Linked DNA regions of Homo sapiens: regions 2, 3 and 4 are each linked to region 1. Evidence: fine-mapped expression QTL. A gene starts in region 1. Each other region holds a variant in brackets. All regions are shown on one strand. Distances are between the middles of the regions. Region 1 holds the start of ATP8B4 (ATPase phospholipid transporting 8B4 (putative)). Region 2 overlaps ATP8B4 (ATPase phospholipid transporting 8B4 (putative)). Region 3 overlaps ATP8B4 (ATPase phospholipid transporting 8B4 (putative)). Region 4 overlaps ATP8B4 (ATPase phospholipid transporting 8B4 (putative)).

Evidence for each region.
Region 2: its variant is fine-mapped to the expression of ATP8B4 in whole blood (TOPMed, PIP above 0.99).
Region 3: its variant is fine-mapped to the expression of ATP8B4 in whole blood (TOPMed, PIP above 0.99). The same link has a PIP of 0.9 or more in blood mononuclear cells.
Region 4: its variant is fine-mapped to the expression of ATP8B4 in non-classical monocytes (Schmiedel 2018, PIP 0.92).

What each region holds. Positions count from the first base shown.
Region 1 is chr15:50,117,058-50,122,217 of GRCh38, forward strand. It overlaps ATP8B4 (ATPase phospholipid transporting 8B4 (putative)), which reads right to left and starts at 2,176. Exons shown (of 28, transcript NM_024837.4): 1 at 2,066-2,176.
Region 2 is chr15:49,886,726-49,891,885 of GRCh38, forward strand. The region is part of intron 23 of ATP8B4 (ATPase phospholipid transporting 8B4 (putative)); the gene reads right to left. Among named protein-coding and RNA genes, the nearest start is that of ATP8B4, 230 kb to the right of the region's middle. The variant G/A (reference allele first, on the strand shown) is at 2,569.
Region 3 is chr15:50,063,278-50,068,437 of GRCh38, forward strand. The region is part of intron 3 of ATP8B4 (ATPase phospholipid transporting 8B4 (putative)); the gene reads right to left. Among named protein-coding and RNA genes, the nearest start is that of ATP8B4, 53 kb to the right of the region's middle. The variant G/T (reference allele first, on the strand shown) is at 2,269.
Region 4 is chr15:50,085,885-50,091,044 of GRCh38, forward strand. All of the region lies in intron 2 of ATP8B4 (ATPase phospholipid transporting 8B4 (putative)), which reads right to left. Among named protein-coding and RNA genes, the nearest start is that of ATP8B4, 31 kb to the right of the region's middle. The variant G/A (reference allele first, on the strand shown) is at 2,659.

The DNA.
Region 1 (5,160 bases):
ATTTTTTTGTGGAGACAGAGTCTCGCTCTGTCACCCAGGCTGGAGTGTAGTGGCCTGATCTCGGCTCACTGCAACCTCCACCACACGGTTCAGGCGATTCTCCTGCCTCAGCCTCCTGAGTAGTTGAGATTACAGGAGCCCACCACCATGCCTGGTAAATTTTTGTATTTTTAGTAGAGAGGGCGTTTCATCATGTTGGCCAGGGTAGTCTCGAACTCCTGACCTCAAGTAATCCACTTGCCTCAGCCTCCCAAAGTGCTGGGATTACAGGCATGAGCCACTGCATCTGGCCAAACATACATTAAGTTTAATTTCAATGACAGCTACAATTTCCAATTTACTTTTAGATGGTTAGTTAACTCTTTTCCTACTAAATGAAAATATTCAATATGCCACATATGAAAAAAATAAAATTCTCCCACCCACAAAAAAATCCTCCAGGGGCACAAAAAAAATCATTTGTTCCCTCATTTTTAAATATTTCTGCATGATGAGACAATATAAAGGCACAATATAGGTTAAAATAAATCACTCTGTGGTTTCTCAAAAAAAGTGAAAACAGATCCACCATATGATCCAGCAATCCCACTTCTGGGAATACATCCAAAAGAAAGGAAATAAGTACCTTGAAGAGATATCTGTACTCCCCTGTTTATTGCAGCACTATTCACAATAGCCAAGATATGGAAGCAATAATATTTCTTCTTGAGGAATAAAATTTTTAAATGTGGTATTTATATACAATGGAATATTATTCAGCCATGAAAAAGAATAAAACTCTATCATTTGCAGCAACATGGATGGAACTGGAGGATATTATGTTAAGCAAAATAAGCCAGGCACAGAAAGACAAATATCACATATCCTCTGTCATATGTGGGAGCTAAAAAAGTTGATCTCATGAAGGTAGAGAGGGAGAATGGTGGTTACCAGAGGTTAGGAAGGGGAAGAGGAAGAAGGGGGTGAAGGTAGGCTGGTTAATGGGTACAAACATACAGTCAGATAGAAGGAACAGGTTCTAGTATTTGATAACACGGTAGTATGACAATAGATAATGATAATTTATTTTTTATTTATAATAAACGATATAGATATAAACGATAAAATAAACGATATAGATAATGATAATTTATTGTATCTCAAAATAGCTAGCAGATTTGGAATGTTCCCAACACAAAGAAATGGTAAATGTTTGAGGTGATATATATGCTAATTACACATCGTATGCATATACCAAAATATCACATGTACCCCATAAATATGTGCAGTTATTACATATCACATAAAAAATAAAAAATACATTTAAAAAAATCAAAACTGAAATCACTCTGAGTTTACATTTTGTAGTAAAGGCCAGCATGGAGCAACAGCTGAGTAAAAGGGGATACTTCATGGGCACAGGTGTTGGTAATCCCACAAGAAAACCTGTGTTTCCTCATTTACTTTCTAACAAGACTTCAGCTTCCAATTAATGTTTTTCACCAGTTTTCTTTTCTTCAAAACAGCTAATTGTTAACCAGGGACCTGAGACACTCTCTTGCCTATAAACAAAACAACTAGAAGGATACCTTTTTCTGTTCAGACAAATTTTAGCACTAAAAACATAACCCTCAAACCTCAGAGGGATAGCTCAGTGCAAACTGTTCATGTCTAAAGCATAAATTGACCATAAACAATATATTGAATAGGTGCACTGTATACAAACCCCGTGAAAAAAATAAAACCAACTACTACCAAAGGAAGTGACAAAGACCTACAAACCAAGAAGAAATGTACCTTTATGCTACTATCATTGGTCATTTAATAGGCATGCTAACAGAGTAAAAAATAGACATTTCAAACAACAAAAAAGAAAATGTCACATCTCCCATTTCCAACTAACTCCCCCAAATTTATTTTTTAGCAAAAGGGGAATAATAAAGAATATTTGTGAAACCTTAGTCACCAAGATGAAAACAGCAAAACAAAATAGGGATCTGGAGAAAAGAAACAGATCGTTCCAACCAGCCCACAGCTAAATTTCCACTTCATCTCACTAACCATTGAATGCTACCCATCTACTCACCTCAACCCAGACTTAATCCTCTCCCCCAAAAGGAAGATTTCTCAGCAGTGCAGGAAGATCAAACAGGTATCCATTCCGTGACCATGCCAAGGAGAAAAGCAAGGCTACTCTGAAAGCTTGAGGGATGATACAGAAAACAAACTGGGTCTCTAGGGGGCATTCTCAAAAACCTGAGATCAACTCCTGGAAAAACACTCTTGACCACTTACCACCACCGGAAGCTGCTAGATGGCAATCAGAATCAGCATCTCATCAGAAGAAGAGGAAGACCTTACAAGAAAGCAGCTTCACTGTCAGTGAGGAATTGAGGGAGAAAAGCACTCCTTGGAAAAATGCTGAAAGCCCTGAAGAGCCTCTCCTCCCCTAGTTGCCTGCTCCTGCTGACAGGACAGAACTGGTTAATCTTGGGGAAACAAAAGGAAACTCCCAAGAGGCTGGCTTCTGAGGATGGCTTCCTCTGTGGGAATCAAGAATTCAGGAGGATGAAAATGAACAATGGAAGGGGACACCGGCTACCAGGCCTACTTACCAAACTTTTACCAGCCCTTGACTGAGGAAGATAAGCAAATCTGTTTGCAGTTCCCACCTGCTTTTGCAGAGATGAAAGAATCAGCAGTGGGTTTTTGTCACTTTTTTTTTTTTTTTTTTTTTTTTTTTACAGGGGAAGTTCAGCTCTCTTATGGATGAAAGCTAAGCATACTCAAGTGACATTTAGTAGGCAAAGCAATGACACTTCTTTCCCAACATCCTTAATTTCAGCACAGAGGATGCAAACATTAACCCTGATGGTACCAAAGAACAAATGCACATAGGAAATGGATTTACATCTTTTAGTTTGGAATTGCTTTTAAGGGGATTCTGGTTGTTAAAGCGGGATTAGATGAAAATAAAATATTTTGGTGCATATCTATTTTTAAAAGGAAAAATATGGCTTCTTTTAAATATGCCTAAAGCCATCTAGGAATTTTCCAGAAGTTGCATCAGATTTGCCAGTTAAGTACTGAAATCAAATAGATTTTAATCATGTCTCTATAACCAGAGCAAGCTAATCCCCTGCGCACCATCAACTCCACTCTCCTGGAACATCCTCACGCTGGGCCCTCAGGTTTTCACAGAAACAAGGGCCTTTTCCTACCAAGGTTCCACAGTAACAAGAAACTACAGATTTCTGGAAATAAGAGAGATGGCTTTCTTTCTTACATGATAAAAGAGGACCAAGAACAGCTTAGAGCAGGAAGCAATCATCTCTTTAAAATATTTAAAATAAAAAACACTTTTAAGTGAAAAACATTTTTAAGTATCACCTCTATACCATTTTTAAACCTATCATATGGGGCAAATATAAGTTTGGTAATTCCCTTTGTTAAAGAAGATATAAGGAAATCAGGGCCTTTTCCTTTTCCTATACTGTTAGTGGGAATATAAATTGGTAAAATATTTTTTAAAGGAAACTGAGTATAGTAGTGCCTATCAAGTATTGAAATGTGTATGTGTTTTTATTTCTTAGGAATTTACCTTATAGAAAACCACACACACGTGCAAACATATCTCTAAATATGTTAATTATAGCACTATGATAGCAACAACAAAAAAACACCTAAAAATGGCTTACATATAAGAGACTGCCTAAATAAGTTAAGGTATATTGATACAAAAGAGTACTATGTAGCCATTCAAAAGAGGGTAGAATTGGAGTAAGGAATCAGGTCATCTGAGTTTAGTTCTGTCTCCACCAGTGACTGGCCAGGTGACTATGCAAGCTCCTACACTTATCTGGGCCATCTGTAAAAAGATGATCATTATAGAACTTACCTCATAGGATTGTTGCAACTAAAACAGTGCCTGGAGCAAAGTAGAGACTCAATAAATTTAGCTATTATAAATAAGAGATAGGCCTCTTCAGACTGACATAGAAAAAGATGTCCAAGATGTACTGTCAAGTGAAAAGATCAAGTTGCAGAAGAATTGTGTATAAGATAATCTCATTTTTAAAAAATATTTTAAATGTGCTCGCTGTTTATTGTCTCCCTCCCACTAAAATAAAAGCTCCTTGAGAGCAGGGACTTTTGTTTACTGTTGAACTCCTGGTGTCCATAATAAGCACTCATGAATAATGAATAATGTCGAATGAATAATGATAACAGCAAGGCTCAGCAAGAAGAATAGGTGAATTCACAGAGACAGAAAGAGTAGAGGCTACCAAGGGCTGCAGGAAGAGAGTATGGGAAGGTATTGTTTAATGGGTACAGGGTTTCAGATTGGGATGATGGAAAAGTCCTGGAGATGGATAATGGTGATAGTTATACAACACTGTGAATGTACTTAAAGCCACTGAACTGTACACTTAAAGGTAGTTAAAATGATAAATGTCATGTTATGTATACCTAGCACAACTTTTTCAAAAATTTCTACTTTTTCTTCATAAGGAGTAGAAAGACGGGGAACAGAGAAGGATGTCCATCTTATAGAGGACTATTACTAGTGTGACTGCAAACCCTTGCTAATCAGAAAACAGTTTAAATTCTCGATTTAGGATACAAGAAAAAAAAAACCTTTTATTCCCATTATACAAAGGTAGCTAAACAGAGCTTAAACTTTCATCCCTATTAGGCAGTATGTGCACTGTCAGAACGCCAGGTCTGTGTTTTCAAGAGGCCTTATTTTGTTTTAAAGCCTTACTTTTGACAAACGTCCTTTATGTCTGTAGTCTAGAGTTTTCAAAGTGCTTTCTCAAGGATCATCTCAACTTGTCCTGACAAAAATCTCGTGATCATATTAAAGGAATTTTAATTAAGTATCTGAGCATTTGAGAGAAAAAAAGAATTCTGAATTTACTCACTCTTTTACCTTGTTCTCCAACTTTACACACATTTCATCAAAACGAAGAGATGGAAATTTTTATTCTTAAGAATCTGAAACCACACAACTATAAGTCTAATATACAACGGAATAAATAGCATCTTATGTTTCTTAGAACCTGTAAATATCTCTTGCCTAACTGCCAAGATAGCTAAGAAAGCCAATGAATTATGGTTTTAGATAAACAGATTAACTACCTGTAACAAGTGGGATGGCCTGGCCTATAGTTTGAAATC
Region 2 (5,160 bases), 230 kb before region 1:
CCTTAGAAACCAACTTTGCCATATGGGCATTGGCTTAGCACAGTTTAGACTTCAGGGTCTTTCACAGAAATTAAGGCCACAAGCAATTTTTTTTTTTTTTTTGAGACAGAGTTTCACTCTTTTGCCCAGACTGGAGTGCAGTGGCACAATCTCGGCTCACTGCAGCCTCTGCCCCCTGGGTTCAAGCGATTCTCCTGCCTCAGCCTCCCGAGTAGCTGGGATTACAGGTGCCTGCCACCATGCCTGGCTAATTTTTGTATTTTTAGTATAGACGGGGTTTTGCCACGTTGGCCAGGCTGGTCTTGAACTCCTGGCCTCAGGTGATCCACCTGCCTTGACCTCCCAAAGTGCTGGGATTACAAGCATAAACCACCGTTCCTGGCCAAGCAATGTTTCTTCTACAACAGGTTTCTGTTGAAGAATCCTTGCAAGAGATCTCCAGCTACTCAAATAGTTATTCTAGTAAATGCCCCACTTCTACTTGTGGTCCTTAGATCCCCTTGGAAAAATTTTAAGGCCCCCTTCTGGTGACTAGGACTAGCTGAGAGGGGCACATGAGCCCAGATCAACCTCCCTGTTTCTCCCCTTCCAAGCATGCTCGGGCACTCTACCACCTCTTCTTCCCTCCCAACCCACCCAACACAGGTTGACCAGATGCCCTGAAGAGAGGGGCAGGGTGGAGGTTGAGGGATGATGACTCTTTTCAGATTTCTAGGTCGACACTCTGATTTTGGGTGACTCAAATTGTTTATATAAAAGGAGTCCCACAAAAAACCATTTTCCCTAGGGCACCCATACTCACAGGGGAAGCCATGGCACCTCTGCCTCCAAAATATTTGTTCCCTATCTCCAATACTCTGAACAAGAGAGAAAAGCCATGCTACTACAAGATGTCACAAGTCTGTTTAAAATCCTATAAGTGTCTCTTCACAGATCAGAAAAAAAAAAAACAGGGAGGAGAGTTCATTTTTCCAACTTCACTGTTTTTTCTATTTAAGGAAAGCTCCTCGCTCCCTTCTTTATGGGAGCAATTTATCAGCCTTATCAACCATTTTACATAGAGTTAAAAATACTCCAGCTACAAATTACAATCTAAAAACAGCTTGGAGAACACAAAACCTATGATTTATAGAATGACACATTTAAATAAACCTTAATAAAGTTCTTAAACAGCTGCAAAGGGCTTTCTCTGCTCTTTCTGCTCGACCACTGGCTGAGCTCCTTGTTCAAATAACAGGATGAACTTACTACCTCTTTGGAGATGTGTATCCCCCTTTTCCTATGTGTTGCAGAGGAAACCTATCTAATGACCTTTTGGGGGCCTTAAAAAACATTTGTCATTTAAAGAAAACACATTGTGGAATAAATATGAGGTGCTCAGCCTCAGCACATCTGTTATTGATTTGTGTAATTAGTAAAAACCCGCTCGCAGCATCCAGGAGGAGTGACCCAGGCCTGAGCACTCGTCCAGTCCTGGACTTTCCCCAGAGCACATCTGGAAGGTGAGGGGGAGCAGAGCTACCATGCCAGGTGGAGACGGGCTCACAGGTAACCAAATCCATGAAGTCATCAAAGCCTTAAGATTAGTCGCAGTCTTTCACGTCACTTTCCAAACTTTTTGTTGCTTTATTATACTGTTTGACAGAACTAAAGTTTTTCCAGCCTTGACAAGATAATTGCTTCCATATCACAGTAGAATTGAAGAAAAAAAAAATACACAGCCCTGTATCTCACTGACAATGATAAATTGTCATCAGATAATATCATCTCACAAGTACACAGTACCAGTAGTTGCATAATTTTAAGCATGAATTTTCTAAATAGGACTTCAACCAATTTTTTTTATTTGGCTGTATCCTTGGTAGGGGACAGTTCCTCTTTACGAAAAGTCCTGAAGGCATAGGGTGCTTTTAAAATAAGTTACAGGTATAAATTGTGAATCCAAACCCACAGTGGATGCCACAAAACTCATGTGGGTTTCAATAATAGATTGGGATAAGGCATGTCCTTAAAAAGAATCCATGATTCAGTTTAGAGACCTAGTCTCCTTTATCCAAACCTCTCTGTTCCAGAAATCTGGCTGGAAATCTCATTAGAACAAATTATATTTAATTTGTTTCTCAGTGGCAGTTGAGTTGGAGCGTTTGCCAGCAGAAGGTGTCCTCAAGCTTCCAGATGATTCTACAAACAGTTCGCCTAGGGACAGGCCTGTCCCTCCCACAGCTCTAAGCTATGACACACCCCGCAAGTCATGAGGTCTCTTTCAATAGAGAGCTCATTTCCTCCACATAGTCATATTGAACTGAGTGTTTCTGGATATTTCTCCTTTAGATTCCAAATAAAGCAAACATTTTCTGATTAGGGGTTGAGGGAAGACAGTATTTTTAAAAAAAAAAAGGATATGGCCATTAGCTTTTCCAAATTTATGACAACCCAAGAGGTCACTTATCATCAGGTAGAGTAGGCAGAGCGCTGAAGTGGGAGCCAGGAGACTTGGTTCCGGTCCTAGCCTTGCCTACCGCTGATCCTCAGCTCCTGCAGGATCAGGATCCTCCTCTGTAAAACGAG[G/A]GACTGGACTCAATGTCCCTGAAATTCTCTGCCAGAGTAAAGATTCTAGGTTCAACAAGATACATACTTTTTGTTCTTTGTTCCCGCTGCTTCTCCCAGGAAATTCCACCCAACATAGGAAACAAAAGGGAGTCTGGTCCGCGGGTTCTTTTCACTGTACATCTCAAGCCAATCACAACATAAGCAACGTACTGAAGTTAACCAGAGGAAAGTCCATAAACCAACGACAACCCAGACTACATCACATCACCATCCATCACAGATGTCCTAAGTGCCACCATCCCACAGGCAGTAATGCTTCCACCCATTGGCCTTCTTGAAGCCTTGCACACCACAGCTGGATTTGCCTACACATGTGCCCCAGCCCACCTACCAGGATGGGGCATTGGCTGGAATCTGCTGGAGCTCTCATCAGATAATAATTGCCTGGATAAAATCCACCAGGCCCCAAAGGCAGACTGATGTAGTAAAGAAACAGCACATGTCACTTCATTAAATAATTAAGCTGGTGTTTTAGAAAGTCAACATTGTGTCTTAAAAAACACAATCTGTTTACATTTGGTCAGATGTTTTCAGCTGAAGAAAGGATTACTTCCAAACAATCTGTTGAGAGGTACACGGAAGAATATTTAGGCGCTTATGAATCATGCTGTGATTTGACAGGGTTGGCCCCAAGACATGGCTTATCCATAGTAAATTTATTCCAAAAGAAATTTTTGGTAGAGAAATAAAAGAAAGGAGATTATGGGATTTTTCAACATTTGTTATGCATTTATGAAAATAAAATCTTTCCCAGACTGTAGGTTCCTTGAGGGTAGGAACAGCATCCCTTTGATTCACTCTGTTGTTCCTGGGGGGCCATCAGAGCACCTGGCCCTAAATTGGCACCCAGTTTATTGTTGGTAAATGAGCAAGCATTCAGACCACAGGTTCTGCATTGGACAATATGTGTGAGAGTCTCACTGCTGTCAGGACTGGACAGAGAAAGTGATGGAAGATTAGGCCTACCCAGGAATGGCCTCTAAAGAGATGCTGGCTATTACCAAATCTGCCAGGCCTTGGAGTTATTACTACTGGCTCCATTTCACTATGGAGCTTTCAATCCTGTTAAAGCAGTTTAGGAGAGGGGTGGCAGGGAGTGGGAAGACCTCAGACAGCTGACTTTCTTTAAAAGACTGGAAGTAAGTGGCTATCTAAGGGGCTTTAGGGGCTAAGAAAGTCTCATCACCCAACACATGGTGTTGGAGGCCAAAGCCACATGTTGGGTGATCTTAACGGGGAAGTGAGAGAGTATGACAGTGAAACTGTCCCCCATTCAAAAATTCTCATTCTCTGTAGTTCTTACAAATATGTTGTTTTCTTTTCACTTGCCTCATTTACAGCATATTGTCCTTAGAAAAACAGGACTAAAAAAAAGCCAAAACATTTTTCAGTTAAACCTGTTGCTAATCAGGCCCTTCCAGTGAAAAACAGGGAATGGAAAAGAGACAATGATCCCTGCCAATCCCAATTCCAAATCCGAGCCACCTTCACAGCCAGTCTTCAATACCGCGAACATGCCAGGCCACTCCCATGTGGGGTGTGGCTGGGGAACACCAGAGTTTCCAGCTTTACAGTGGTAGAACACCTGCTCTAGAACAGGCTTCTTGCTATAGACAATACTGCTAAGTAAGCTCCCCATTCAATGCCATGAAGTTTTTGAAAGGTATTTCTCAATGAGTTGGTGTTAAACAGAATTTTAGAAATTACAAGATTTTAGCTAATTACAGGTCAGTTGGAAAGTGTATGAGGGGAGGGATGTCCTCCTTTTACTCCAAAGTCTCATACCCTTCTGCAAATCAAGCCCCAAATCCCTGAAGGGAGCTAGAATTTCAGGCCTTCAGATCTCCACTTAATTTTTAAAATATTCATACACTTGCTTGCAGACTAATTGTGCCTAAGTCATCCCAGATCCTCCTAAGTCATCCTAGATCCTCACACATTTCTCCTTTCCCCATGCTTTCAAATTACCTTTAAATACAAGTTTGTTTGTTTGTTGTTTGTTTGCTTTGAGATGGAGTCTCGCTCCATCACCCAGGCTGGAATGCAGTGGTGTGATCTCAGCTCACTGCAACCTCCACCTCCCAGGTTCAAGCGATTCTCCTACCTCAGCCTCCTAAGTAGCTGGGATTACAGGCACGCTCCACCCCGTCCAGCTATTTTTTGTATTTTTAGTAGAGACGAAGTTTTACTACGTTGGCCAGGCTGGTCTCAAACTCCTGACCTCAAGCGATCTGCCCACCTTGGCCTCCCAAAGTGCTAGGATTGCAGGTGCGAGCCACTGCACCCAACTAAATACAATATTTGTATTAGACTGATTTATGCACTTATTTATTTCCCAATGAGAAAAACCAGTTCTAGGTGGGCAAGAGTTTGTCCTTTTCATTATTTTGTTTTCTCTTCCCAAGATAGCAAGCAAGTCTTTCTATTAGCAAGTTGACAATGTCATGTGACTCACAGATGAGGAAGACAGAAATTATTAAATTAAAAACAACATCTTGGGCCGGGCACAGTGGCTCATGCCTGTAATCCCAGCATTTTGAGGGGTCGAGG
Region 3 (5,160 bases), 54 kb before region 1:
TTCATTGTGTTGTGCTCAGTATTTTTATTATTAACTTAGATCAGTGATTAATCCAGGTTGCCCATTAGAATCACTAGGGGAGCTTTAAAAAAAAAAATGCCTGGACTCCACCCCTAAAGCTTCTGATTTCATTGGCCCATTTGTTTAACTATCAATGACAATACAGAGAGATGCTAAAGTCCACATAGATACAATAATAAAAGGAATAGTTTAATGACAGAGTAAGTGCCTATTATGTGCCAACAAGCCCTATGACAAGCAAGATATGGAGATAAATGTGACACGGTTCTTGTCATTAACAATAAAAATAAAATTAATATGAGATTAATAGACTCAACAGTCACTGAAAAGATAGTACAGTCTTAGACTGTATTAATAATCTTTCTCTACTTCAAGATGGTCAAATAAATTCTAGACTATTGTGTTTGACTTTGGAGGAACCCACTTGAAGAAGTTATAGAAAAACTGAGGCTCTTTGAAAAGAAAAGGAATAGCAGGTGATTTTCCTGGAGATCTGTTTATTTGATGAATTTGTGTTTGATATTTTAAACACAAATATCTGAAGTGTTGTTGCATGAAACAGAAGACATGTTTGCTCTGCTTTGGTCTCTGAAGAAAAGCTAAAACAATGGAAAATAAAGCAAGAGAATATCAATTTGGCTCAATTGATGGAAAAATTACCTAATGATTAAAACTACCCAAAGAAAGAAAAGGCTGTTTGGGGAGGTAATGAGGTCCCCTCTTCTAAAGGGATAAAAGCACAGACAGGACATGGAGTTGGTTAGAATTCTGTAAAGAGAGTTGAATGGAAAAGCTTTAAAGGATAATTCCACACTGAGATTCCACAGTGTATTGTACTGAAGCTAATTTCCTTGCAGTACCTAAGAAATCAGGTTTTTCCTTTTGTATAAAAAAAGCCCTTCTTCCCTAAACTTTTGGACAATTGGTACACAATGATGTCACCATCTATAACTTACCTAGATGACACCTGAACAGCCACATCTGTAATGATGTGAACTGACAACCAAGGAGGACACATAAAACCCAGTACAATCAGGACTGCTAGAGACACCAAGTCAAGGGTATCAGGAGCTAGAGATTTAGATCAACAGTCTTGGCATGTGACTCTGATTGCTGTCCTCTGCTTAATTCCTCTGAGAACAGTCTCTCATTATTCAAGCAAAAACATCCTTACAAAACTGTATACACTTCCTCACAACTACAACACTACCTCCGTGCACACAGTCATGCAATAGACACAGATTTATTGACAAATATATAGCCCAAGTCTTGGATCATTTTTAAAGAATTTTCAAGTTTAATGCCTAAGTAGCTTACTTTTGTAATAAACCTGCAAATTGTATACTTGATGTATTAGTCTATTCTCATGCTACTATAACAAAATACCTGAGACTGGTAATTTATAAAGACAAGAGGTTTAATTAGCTCATGGTTCTGCAGGCTGTACACAAAGCATAGAGGCTTCTGCTTCTGAGGAAGCCTTAAGAAACTTGCAATCATGGCAGAAGGCAAAGGGGAAGCAGGCACATCTTACACGGTTGAAGCAGGAGCAAAAGGGAGAGGGAGGAGGTGCTACACACTTTTAAACAACCAGATCTCAGGATAACTCACTGTCACTATCATGAGAACAACACCGAGGGGATGGTGCTAACCCACTCATAAGAACTTCACCCTCATAATCCAGTCACCTTCTACTATGCCCCACCTCCAACACTAGCGATGACAATTCGACATGAGATTTGGTGGGAACACAGATCCAAATCATATCATTTGATAATTGCTATGAGAGTAGATTTTAAGTGTTCTCATCATAAAAAAATGATAAGTTATGTGAGATAAGGCATATGTAAATCAGGTCGATTTAGCCATTTTGTAATTTATACATATTTCAAAACATTATGTTGTGTACTATAAATATATACAATTTTTATTTGTCAAAAAAAAGAAACTACATAGAAAATCAGGTGTAAAATGTGACAGTAATCTGGTACTAGTTTCATAATAGTGGACATGAAGTTAAGATCACCTTGGTACATAAATGATTTGATCTTTCAACAACAAAATGTAAAACATGATTGTTACCATCTTTTAACAATAAGATTCCCAGAACCAGACCATTTGGTCCAGTAAAGAAGATTGCAAAACAAGATAAAAACCACTTTGAGACCGTTGGGGTTAGTGGTTTTTTTCCGTTAACCTCTCAATTGTTACTAAACTTGCCCAATTTCATCCACACAGTTGATTTAT[G/T]GATTATTTTCATGAACCATTTGCCAACAAAGGAAACTCCATTTATAGTTCCTTCTTCACAAGTAACTTACTCTTCTTTCTATGTAATCTTTTCATTTCTCAATCTTAAATTTATTCCATTACAGCCAAGCTATAACAGAGCAAAATTCTGCCATCAAAAATTGCTTATTTTAACTCTTGTAATTCCAATTACATATTGCTTGCATACTTTTCAGTTTTGTACCATTGCAGTGAAGAAAGTAAAAATAAAAATAAATAAATAAGCCAAATCTGTTTTTTTAACTTAAAATTTACTTCTCAAAGCAGATGGAATGGGAACTAGTTTATGAGGATGCTGAAATTATCTCAAGCCTGGAACAGGTAAATAACAAACAAATACCTCAGAGAACTTACCTAGATTCTTTAATTACTTTAATATGCCATTTTAGAACATTTAGGAATAGAAATTCAGAGGCCAGAAAAAAAAAAAAAAAGATTAAAACAGGCAAACTAAATTAGGGAAACAAGAAACCAGACGAATGCTTAGCCAAAGAATAACACTATTTAAACAAATCAGATGTCAAAAAGATAAAAAATATTTATGTTTTTATACTCTTGAATCCAGAAAGAAAATGAATTTGAGAGATATCCAAAAAATATATTTTCTCCTACAAGTAAATTATTTATAAAGAAAAAAATTAAAACCTTTGCCATGTCAAACTTAGAATAACATACACAGATATTAACAGCACACAAAACAGAAGCCATTTTCAATGTTTGCTAAAAAGCCACTGTTACTATGGTGATGCCCCAATACAAAAAAGCAACAACTAACAACCAGAAACCCATAACAAATGCAAGTTACTGGTGCTTTCCATGACTAATTCCAACGTGTCACACTGCTTGTCATCATCTGTACTCTTTAGTTGGTGCATCTGGTCATCAGCCCCATAGGTGAGGATCTGCATCATGTGGGCAGTACAGCTATGCTGCTCAAGAAGAATAGAGACCCAAATGTCCCATCAGTCCGGGGATGTGTTTCAACATGGTGACATCCCAAGAGTCTCCCAAAGAAAATATTTACGGAGTTTTACCTTTCCATGGATTTTAAACACATACTTAAAAAGCCAAAATATGTGAAAAGATTGATTTAAAAATGGTTGACCAAATTTCAGTCAGCCTGAAAGCTTTTATACTGTTTCTCTTCTCTTTATTGCAAGCTATTAATTGAATTAGCTCTACCCCACCCCCTCTTTCTTTTTTTTACAGTTTGTGGGGTTTTTTTCTGCCCTCCGACTTTTAAACCTCAACTTTCTTAAAAAATTAAAACGGCTTTCTTCAGGTCCTCCAGTTACTTCCTTCTATTAAAGATGTTTTCCCTTAGTTCTTAACCTCATAGGCACCTACCATTAGACCAGTTCACCACTCCCTCTTTCCTGAGACGTTCCCTTCCTTAACACTTTCCTACACTGTCCTCTCTTCGTTCACTTCAATCCTTGCTGTCCTCTGTTCCTTCTTAAGTTCTTTCCCTCCCACTCTCTAACAAACTGAGTTTCCACCCCATACCTCACATTTAGCAAGTTCCATCACTGCTTAACAAGCCTCACTTCTCTCCTAGCTCAAAGTTTCTCCTTCCAGCCGATATTCCTAAATCTACAGCTCCCACCACACCCAACTTACGTTCTGTGTTAACCTGGCCATTTCCGTTTGGGGATTTGGCCTATTTTATATGGAGGGCAAATAAAATCCCTTTTCACTTTGTGATTCCCCAGCTCCTGACAGCCAATTACCTCATGTTTAAACTCTCTTTTTAAATAGTCTGTTCTCACCTACCCAAACCATAATTCCTCATGACATACTGTCACTTCTCTTAGCCTGTAGTCTAAGGTCTGACTACAGGCTTTTGCTCCTGTCTCTCCTTGCTAACAGTGGTGGTACAAATAAACAAGGCAGGAATCATTTCCCACTTCCTCTGGCAAAACTTCCTCAAACACTTTCGTGTACTTTGAGCTCTCCTTTCCCTAGCATTTACAGGCCACATCACAAAATTAGAATTTCACAGCACCTTTTCATTCTTACCTATTATTAGTTTCATTCTAGTGTGCTGGGCTTCTCTTCCTGAGTAGACTATATCTGCTCCTTGAAGGTAGAAAGCAGAATTTGTACCCCCTTTCTTAATAGCTCCAGTAGCACTCAACACACTGCTAGTCTAAGCAGGCACGTCCTGTAGCATGCACTTTGGGGCCCACCTAAACATATTCTGCCTACACTAGCTTCTTCATGTATTGTTATCCCTTTGAGCTTTATATGCTTTTTGTACATTGCCGCAAATACTGTTTGGAAAATAAATGAGGAAAAGGCAACAAACATACATGTTGCTAGGTATAGAGCAGGTATGTTGTGAATATTAAATTCTGAAAATTATTTTTATTTCTATTAAAGAAAAGGGGACAATGAATGGTCTATGCACCCCACACACAGGAACATGAAATTTTCCTGTTAAGCCAGTCTTTTCTCAGAGAAACACAGATACATTATTATGATGTGGGCCTAAAGAGGCCCAGTGACCATCTCGGCTCACACACTGAGAATGATGGTGAACCATATTTTTCTACTCTACTCTCAACCACTTAGATTCTGAGTTAAGAGGAGAGAGAAGTTTGCTGACTGTGGAAACGTACAAAGTCCTATTTAAATGGGCGGGAGGGAAATAAAAGGAGTTCATGTTGCAGGGAGCCTTAGTGGTGTGATTGTAGCACTGACTGCTGGGGGTTGGAGGTACTCAACCACATTGTTGCACTGAATGAACACTTTGGAAAATCCAAATGGGCATTGTTTTACCAACCACAAAAAATCATGGGAGCAGCAAATAGATTTCATCCAATAACTAGGATATCAACAAGGCATTTGCAG
Region 4 (5,160 bases), 31 kb before region 1:
TTATATATGATATATATCATATATATTTATATATGATATATATCATATATATTTATATATGATATATATCATATATATTTATATATGATATATCAAATATATCATATATATTTATTATATATAATATATATAGATCTATATTTATTATATATAATATAATATATAGATCTATATATATTATATATAATAAATATAGAACTATACTTATTATATATAATAAAATAAATATAGATCTATATTATATATAATAAAATAGATCTATATTTATTATATATAATAAAATAATATAGAGATCTATATTTATTATATATAATAAAATAATATAGAGATCTATATTTATTATATATAATAAAATAATATAGAGATCTATATTTATTATATATAATAAAATAATATAGAGATCTATATTTATTATATATAATAAAATAATATAGAGATCTATATTTATTATATATAATTAATATAGAGATCTATATTTATTATATATAATAAAATAATATAGAGATCTATATTTATTATATATAATAAAATAATATAGAGATCTATAATTATATATAATAAAATAATAGAGATCTATATTATTATATATAATAAAATAATATAGAGATCTATATTTAATTATATATAATAAATATAGAGATCTATATTTATTATATATAATAAAATAATATAGAGATCTATATTTATTATATATAATAAAATAATATAGAGATCTATATTTATTATATATAATAAAATAATAGAGATCTATATTTATTATATATAATAAAATAATAGAGATCTATATTTATTATATATAATAAAATAATAGAGATCTATATTATTATATATAATAAAATAATATAGAGATCTATATTTATTATATATAAAATAATAGAGATCTATATTATTATATATAATAAAATAATATAGAGATCTATATTTATTATATATAATAAAATAATAGAGATCTATATTATTATATATAATAAAATAATATAGAGATCTATATTTATTATATATAATAAAATAATAGAGATCTATATTATTATATATAATAAAATAATATAGAGATCTATATTTATTATATATAATAAAATAATATAGAGATCTATATTTATTATATATAATAAAATAATATAGAGATCTATATTATTATATATAATAAAATAATATAGAGATCTATATTTATTATATATAATAAAATAATATAGAGATCTATATTATATATAATAAATATAGATTATATTTATTATATATAATATATAGATCTATATTTATTATATATAATATATAGATCTCTATTATATATAATAAATAGATCTCTGTATATTATATATAATAAAATAATATATAGATCTATATTTATTATATATAATAGAATAATATATAGATCTATATGTATTATATATAATAGAATAATATATAGATCTATATCTATTATATATAATAGATATAGATCTATATTTATATATAATATAGATCTATATATTATATATAATAAAATAATATATAGATATATATTATACATATCATATATTTATTATATATTACATATCATATATATTTGATACATAATATATATACACTCCTCATATTCTTGAGAGGTGATAAATTCTGTTTTGACTAGGAGTTGATGAATACATGTATGACATGATATGCTTATTATACTTAGTAAGTATAATAAACATATTTTTCTTTTTTCATGGGGATTTCACAGAATAAAATGCATTAGAATTCCTGTGCTTTTGAGCATAAACCTACTTATAGCAGCACTACTTATGGCAAGTATATCTGTAACAGTTCATATATGAAAGAAACTTGGTGGAAGTTTTTCCAAGGTTGACCATTCTAAATGTTTATGTGACATTGTGAAGTCACAAAGGTGAAAATTTTTTCTAAGCTACCATAATTCTTAAGTTAATGTTAATTAACTATACCAAAGGAAAAACTGAATTATCTAAGTCTCTCTTTAGAAAATTTTGTAACAAAATAATTGTTATATGAGAGGCAATCAAAAATAAAAGGCCAAAAATAAATAAATAAAACATTTTATAAAGGCACATTCAGCAAAATGAAGACACTGTGTTGTTTTTCTGAATTTTGGGATGCTTGGGGTATTTTTCAAATTTTCAAAATTATAATTTATAGAGATTTTCTCACTCTAAATTAATATTTTTATTATACCTGATTTTGTATTTTGTATTTATATTAGCTTAAGACCTCAAAAAACCTAGATCCAGGTTGGGCACGGTGGCTCACACCTGTAATCCCAGCACTTTAGGAGGCCAAGGCGGGTGGATCACCTGAGCAGAAGCTCGAGACCAGCCTGACCAACATGGTGAAACCACATCTCTACTAAAAATACAATTAGCTGGGCGTGGTGGCAGGCGTCTGTAGTCCCAGCTACTTGGGAAGAATTGCTTGAACCCGGGAGGCGTCTCTGCACTCCAGCTTGGGTGACAGAGCGAGACTCCCTCTAAAAAAAAAAACAAAAAACAAACAAACAAAAAAACCCTCGATCCAGCCCTGACAACCACTGTCCCCCATCTTCATTCAACTCCAGCCTCAGTGGCCTCTTGTTCCTTGACCACACCAGGTCCATTCTCATCTCATGGCCTTTGCACTTACTGTTCCCTCGCCTGGCATGCTTATTGCTCAAGTATTTACATGGCTGCC[G/A]CCTCACTTCTTTCAAATCTGCAATCAAATATGTCTTCTTAATTCAGCCTTCCATGGTTATCCTTTTTGAAACTGCAGCACACTCCCACCCAATGTAGAAGATTATTTATTCATTTATTTTGTTGATTGTCTTTCTGCCCCGCCCCCGACCAGAATGTGAGCTCCATGCAGGTTGAGGGCTTTTTACTTCTTTAAACCTGTTTTGTTCACAGCTGTACCTGCAACCTTTGGAACAGTGTCTAGCACATAATCAACGTTCAGTATATATTTCTGAAATGGACAGAATGATGGATAGATGGATGGATGGCTAGATAGATGAATGGATAGATAAATCAATAAGTGAATGAATGGTTTCTCAAAGATCAGATGGTTGTAGATGTGCAGTCTTATTTCTGAGTTCTCTATTCTGTTCCATTGGTCTATGTGTCTGTTTTTGTACCAGTACCATGCTGTTTTGGTTACCTGACAAAAACAAGCAATGGGGAAAGGATTTCCTATTTAATAAAGGGTGCTAGGAGAACTGGCTAGCCATATGCAGAAGATTGAAACTGGACCCCTTCCTTATGCCTTATATGAAAATTAACTCAAGATGGATTAAAGACTCAAATGTAAAACCCAAAACTATAAAAACCCTAAAAGAAAATCTAGGCAGTACCATTCAAGACATAGGCATGGGCAAAGATTTCATGACAAAAATATCAAAAGCAATTGCAACAAAAGTAAAAGTTGACAAATGGGATCTAATTAAACTAAAGAGCTTCTGCACAGCAAAATAAACTATCATCAGAGTGAACAGACAGCCTACAGAATGGGAAAAAATTTTTGCAATCTATCCACCTGACAAAGATCTAACACCCAGAATCTATAAGGAACTTAAACAAATTTACAAGAAAAAAGCAAACAACCACATTGAAAAGTGGGCAAAGGACATGAACTTCTCAAAAGAAGACATTTATGTGGGCAACAAACATGAAAAAAGGCTCAACATCACTGATTATTAGAGAAATGCAAACAAAAACCACAGTGAGATACTATCTCACACGAGTCAGAATGGCAATTATTAAAAAGTCAAGAAACCACAGATGCTAGTGAGGCTGTGGAGAAACAGGAACTTTTTTTTTTCTTTCTTTCTTTTTTTTGAGACAGAGTCTCACTCTGTCTCCCAGGCTGGAGTGCAATGGCGCGATCTTGAGAAACAGGAATGTTTTTACACTGTTGGTGGGAATATAAATTACTCCAACCATTGTGGAAGTCAGTATGGCGATTCCTCAAAGACCTACGGGCAGAAATACCATTTGCCCCAGCAATCCCATTACTAGGTATATACCCGAAGGAATATAAATCATTCTATTACAAAGATACATGCACACGTATGTTCATTGCAGCACTATTCACAATGACAAAGACATAGAATCAACCCAAATGCCCATCAATGATAGACTGGATAAAGAAAATGTGGTACATATACATCATGGAATACTATGCAGCCATAAAAAGGAATGAGATCATGTCCTGTGCAGGGACACGGATGGAGCTGGAAGCCATTATCCTCAGCACACTAAAACAGGAACAAAGAACCAAACATCGCATGTTCTCACTTACAAGTGGGAGCTGAACAGTGAGAACACATGGACACAGGGAGGGGAAGAACACACACTGGGGCCTGTGGGGTAGGGGAACAACGGGAGGGAGAGCATCGGGAAAAATAGTTAATGCATGCTGGGCTTAATTCCTAGGTGACAGGTTGATAGATGCAGCAAACCACCACATTTACCTATGTAACAAACCTGCACATCCTGCACATGTATCCCAGAACTTAAATAAAATAAAATAATAAAAATCTAATTCCCTATGTGATGCAATTCAGAGGTGGGACCTTGGGAGGTGATTAGGTCATGAAGGCAGAGGCCTCACAAATGAAATTAGTGCCACCCCTGTCAAAGGGACCACAGAAAGCTCCCTCATACCTTCTGCCATGTGAGGACACAGTAAAAACATGGCTGTCTATGAACAAGGAAGCAAGCCCCACCAGATACTGAATCTGCTGACCACTTGATTGGATTTCACCATCTCTAGAACTGTGAGGAATACATTTCTGTTTCGTTTTTAAAAAAGTGAATGAATGAATGACTAGTCAATATTTTTTATTTTTCATAAGACAATCAGCACTACTACAGTGAAACAAGATCATACTAGCCAAAATTATTGAAATGTGATTTTTTTTTTTTAGAGATGGGATTTCCCTGTGTTACCAGGGCTGGTCTCAAACTCTTGGGCTCAAAAGATTCTCTAGCCTTGGCCTTCCAAAGTACGGGGATTACAGGTATGAGCCACCTCACTTGGCCTGAAATGTGATGTTTAAATTAGCTTTTTCACCATGTAAAAAGTAAATTTACAATTCACAGTAGGCTTTTAATTTCTGAGTTATTAAGAGTACTTTTATTTATAGAAAATATCATATTTGGTTAGCTCTCTTTTAGGTGCTTTTAAAAAAAAGAAAAT